2 separate regions of the Homo sapiens genome follow, and region 2 is linked to region 1. A link means that fine-mapping ties the variant in region 1 to the expression of a gene that starts in the linked region. Tissue or cell type: lung. Region 1 holds a variant in brackets; the other region holds the start of a gene. All regions are shown on one strand. Distances are from middle to middle.

Region 1 (2,759 bases):
GGCCTGGCTAGCAAAGGTAGTCTTGCCTGCCGGGTAGCAGCCCTCAGAGAGAATAGAAGGTAAATGATTCCTTCAGACCTTTGAAGGTGTCAGACTTCCAGTTAATCTTTCCTAGATCCAGCCAAGGGAAAGTCTCAGAGAAAGCCTGGCTGCAGCAATGTATAGCTTCCAGATGCATATTTTCCTGACAATAGACAGCTTTCCAGGGCTACTTCTCTTTGCAGGCCCTCTGAAGAGCCATCACAAAGTATGTCAAATAAATATATTCTGGGGTGAAATATTTTTATTTCCTTCAATAGTGAATAGAGACAAGTATGGACTGTTTTAACAAAACAAAATAAAAGCATGCCAATAATAGACATTAGAGTATTAACTACTCATTGCATATGCCTGCAATTCTGTTTGTAATGGTAAATAATCTAGCATTTATGTAAACTTTTTTTTTTAATGCTTCCCCTCTGTTTGAAACTAAAAATTCCCAGGCTGGGTGTGGTGGCTCATGCCTGTGATCCCAGCATTTTGGGAGGCTGAGGCAGGTGGATCACCTGAGGTCAGGAGTTTGAGACCATCCTGGCCAACATGGCGAAATCCTGTCTCTACTGAAAATACAAAAATTAGCCAGGCATGGTGGTGGATGCCTATAATCTCGGCTACTCGGGAGGCTCAGGCAGGAGAATCACTTGAACCCCTGGGGCGGAGGTTGCAGTGAGCCAAGATCGTGCCAGTTCACTCCAGCCTGGGCAAAAGAGTGAGACTCTGTCTCAAACAAACAAACAAATAAAAACACAACAACAAAAAGAAACTAAAAATTCTATTTAAAAAAAATAGCCAAGGCTCTTTACAATTTATCTTCTTTACTTTAAAAAGAATAGAGCAGCAACATCTGAGTAAAGTACATTTTTTACATTTCAACCAATCCTTATGTAAAAGACATCTAAAAAGGTATATATTAGCATTTTTAGGGCTTTTTGGAATTATAAACAGATTGACAGCTCTGTGGCCTGGAGTTAGTGCTGTTTATTTCCTAGACTGATATAGCAGCGGCTGTAGTTCCATGCATGGCACCCTGATTCCCAGGATTAGGAATACAAAGGCTGATTTGTGGGGAGGAGAGTTTTCTGGAAGCACGTGCAGCTGCCACTGGCGCATGCCAGCACATTCATTAGCCAATCTGACAGCAGAGCTGATGTCTACTCTCAGCTTTTCGGGGCAAAGAAAGGCACATGATGCCAAAGGGCCTTCTCATTCTTAGCTGAACACACAGAAGGGTAAAGCCAGGGGTTCCCATGATCCTTCCTTTTTCCTGGATCGTTAGCTGTCAGGATCTCAAGTAATCATGAATTAACCCCTGTAAGGCATCTGAATGAATGCCTACCTTATTTTAAACCTGAATAAGTAAAACCCTCTTAAAGATTGCTGTTTCATGCTGCCCGCCCCATCCCCCCAACCCACTCCCTTTTAATAATGTAGCAACATGGAGATTGAAGTGGGTAATTTTTCTCTTTGTATACTGTCTTTTTCAATTCTGGAACAGGTCCAGAAATTATAAATTGAATTGAATTATAAATAAGTATTGAATATTGTTTTGCTATTCCCAATACATTTAATACTGTCAATTATTTTAATTGGGCTAGTCATTTCAGAATTTAAAATAGTAAAGGCTCAGTCAAGGTTGC[A/G]TCAGGGATTCCTGATACTTGGGAAACTAGAAAACAACAACAACAGTTCAAATCCATGTAGCTTCATTCAAATCATTCATGTACTGGCGTATGCCATAGTCCTTAACCTGACCCTACCCTGTGGTTCATAAAACTGTCAACTAACTTGCATATCATCCAGATGTCTTGTTTTGGCTCACCACATTTCAGACTTCGGTCTGTGAATACTTGCAAATATTTTCTTTTTTCTTTTTCTTTTCTTTCGCTTTTTTTTGAGACGGAGTCTCGCTCTGTCACCAGGCTGGAGTGCAGTGGCGCGATCTGGGCTTACTGCAACCTCCGACTCCCTGGTTCAAGCAATTCTCCTGCCTCAGCCTCCTGACTAGCTGAGATTACAGGCACGTGCCACCACACCCAGCTAATTTTTGTATTTTTAGTAGAGACGGGGAGTCACCATCTTGGCCAGGATGGTCTCAATCTCCTGACCTCGTGATCTGCCCGCTTCAGCCTCCCAAAGTGTTGGGATTACAGGCGTGAGCCACCGTGCCCAGCCACAAATGTTTTCTTAAATAATTTAGCATACATTACTGGTTGTCTCAGAATATTTCAGCAATAACGTAATAGTCTTTATTTATAACTAATAAAACTAGGATAATCCAGCAGTGGAAACCAATGAATAGGAGGCAACTCACCATGGTCTTGCTGGTTTTGCCAATGCCAAGCCAGAGGAACACAGGCAAATTATGAAATTCCTCTGGGTAGTATCACAGAAAAGCAAGGAGAATTTCAAAGCCGGGCCAGGAGGTGCTATTTAGGTAGAGATATTAAACATAATCACAGTTTAAGTGATTATATAAAAAGGGGCTGTTACAGAAACAGTGAAATCTTTATAGCCTCTGATAGGATACTTGATGGGCTTCCAAATTTGCGCACTTCCCTCTTGAAGAGAGTTAGATCTTTTGACTAGAGGGCTAGATCTCTCTCCTCTCTGAATTTCAAAAGTGTTAAAATAACAAGCAATGTCTAGCTGGGTGATTTTCCACATTCGTCCTGTCTAAAGGAAGAAGTTTGTTCTACTGTAAACAGTTATGGGAACTGTTTGCT
Region 2 (2,500 bases), 950 kb before region 1:
TAGGTGACAGAGAGAGACTTCTTCTCAAAAAAAAAAAAAAAAGGCCTTCCACCACCGCGCAAAGGGACCCAGTAGGATTTCAGGTCCAGAGTGAATCATACTATGCCCTCCACTCCCACATTTTTACACGACGAAATCTGTCTAGCATGTACAACTAATAAAAATAGTAGAGGGAAAAGAGGTCATGGATAGGCAATTTATAGCCAGACAGGTGGGAGTGTAGGTTTTGGCTCCACCATTTTTTATTTTCTTGATGAGGAGCCCTTTAGGTCATTTTAGAAATAGTGTCACTGCCTGCCTTCCCGAGTCTTTGCCACACCAAAGACTTGTTTCCTCCGCTAGACAAAAATATGGATGGCTGTCCCAGTTCTGTCTCAAACAATGATCGTGTAGAATCAAATAAGGCCCTCTGTAAACTATAGCACTTTACAAACTGGTAAGGTAGCAGCCATCCTTCCAAGGTATCAGGGAACAGCGAAGCAGCTGATTAAAATAGTCTTGATTACTTGAGATACAGGAGGGTAGGAATAACATGTGGTAACTGAACTCTATAGATACTATCTAAAATCGCATTCTAACAGGCAAGTTTAATCTTTCTGAGATTTGCCTCTTTGTAGAGCTCTAAAAAATAAAAGGAGAGGGGCGTAAAATGCCAGTAAGATTAGTTAAATTTCTTCTCCTTTTGAGCCCTGCCCATAGGTAGATGGAATTAGGGCAGAACAAAAACATTAAGAATAAAAGCCCGAACGAGATGCGCGTACAGGTGAACACAAGTGAACACTGGGGTAAGGAAATGAGTTATGCGGAAAAGGCTTCAGACCATCCCTGGGAACTGCTCCGGGTCTGGACATTTCCTTTGGCAACCTTCCAGAGTCTGAGTCCCCAGGGCTCCCCCCGGCGGGAAAGGAAAGGCGCGCGTGGCTAGGCGCGCGCGTACACGGGCACTCACGTGTACACACACACGCGCGCACACTACACATACACACAGGGCCCATTTCCTCCGCTCCCTCCCCGCGGGGGGCGGGTCTCTTTCTCTTTAAAGAGCAGACGGTCTCCGCGCACACCCAGGCTCTCAAGGCCTCGGGGGCCCGGGACCCGAGCTGCTCGTAGCCAATGGGAGCAGTGGAGCGGCTCGAGCGCGGCTGACGCTGCACCAATGGGCGATCGTGGGGGGCGGGGGCAGCAGAGGAGACACTATTGTTGATGAGGAGCGGCGGCGGCGGCGGCGGCGGCTGCACCACCTCGTTGCTGCCTGCCCCGGCCCGGTCTCCCCCTGCACCCCGGAGTCCGGCTTCGTCACCCCGTCTTGGGGGGCCTGCCCTCCGGCCTCGAGAATCCTCCCCCTGCAGCCCAACAACAACAAAACCCCCCGTCTCGCCCAGTCACCGGGGAGGGGGGGGACCATGTCCCAGCGGGTGAGGCGCAATGGGTCCCCCACGCCGGCCGGCTCCCTTGGGGGTGGTGCGGTGGCCACGGCCGGGGGACCCGGGAGCCGCTTGCAGCCCATGAGGGCGACGGTTCCGTTCCAGCTGAAGCAGCAGCAGCAGCAGCAACATGGCAGCCCCACGCGGAGCGGCGGCGGCGGCGGCGGCAACAACAACGGTGGCTGCTGTGGTGGCGCCTCAGGCCCCGCAGGCGGCGGCGGCGGCGGTGGCCCGCGCACCGCCTCGCGCAGCACCAGCCCCACGCGCGGCGGCGGGAACGCGGCCGCGCGCACCAGCCCCACGGTGGCCACGCAGACGGGCGCGTCCGCGACGTCCACGCGAGGCACCAGCCCCACGCGCAGCGCCGCGCCTGGAGCTCGCGGGAGCCCCCCACGGCCGCCGCCGCCGCCGCCGCTGCTGGGCACCGTGTCGTCGCCCAGCTCGTCGCCCACCCACCTGTGGACCGGCGAGGTGAGCGCGGCCCCACCCCCAGCCCGCGTCCGGCATCGGAGGAGGTCTCCGGAGCAGAGCCGAAGCTCGCCGGAGAAGAGGAGCCCCAGCGCCCCGGTTTGCAAAGCAGGTAAGTGCTGGGGGTCGCGCAGCAAGGGGGAGGCGGCTGCGGGAAGGGGTCCCGGGCGCGCGCTGCAATCGCGCGGGGACTGCAGAGCTGCCGCGGAGCCCGGGTGGCTGGGGGCGGGGCTGGGGGCGGTGCCGGGCGGTGGGGGACCCGGCAGTGCGGCCCCGCCTTTCCCGGGCCTACCCTACGCCCCGCCCGCCCGCCCGCCTCATTCACCCCTCTGCCCGCCCCGCACGGCTCCCTGGTGGTGGAGGTGCAGCGGCTAAACCTTGGGCTTGAGCTGATGAGTGTTAATGATAAACCTGGCTTCCTGGCCTTACTCCTGGAGGAGTCGTTACTGCTTACCCTCCCTTGAGGGTGAGGCTAGGAGTGGTTTGTCACTTTGTTTTAGGGACAAGGTTAATGTTGGCATAGCCCATATCTGCTGCTGCTAAGTATTTCTGTTCACAAAACAGTTTCAGATCTGGGGTACTGAATGCATTAGCAGTGGCAGATTTGG

Evidence for each region. PIP is the estimated chance that this variant, and not a neighbour inherited with it, causes the effect.
Region 2: FAM117B starts here. The variant in region 1 is fine-mapped to the expression of FAM117B in lung (TOPMed, PIP above 0.99).

What each region holds. Positions count from the first base shown.
Region 1 is chr2:203,579,899-203,582,657 of GRCh38, forward strand. No RefSeq gene overlaps it. Among named protein-coding and RNA genes, the nearest start is that of RAPH1, 46 kb to the left of the region's middle. The variant A/G (reference allele first, on the strand shown) is at 1,677.
Region 2 is chr2:202,633,785-202,636,284 of GRCh38, forward strand. It overlaps FAM117B (family with sequence similarity 117 member B), which reads left to right and starts at 1,185. Exons shown (of 8, transcript NM_173511.4): 1 at 1,185-2,004. The coding sequence starts at 1,404. RefSeq lists silencers at 1,223-1,452, 1,643-1,692, 1,793-2,232.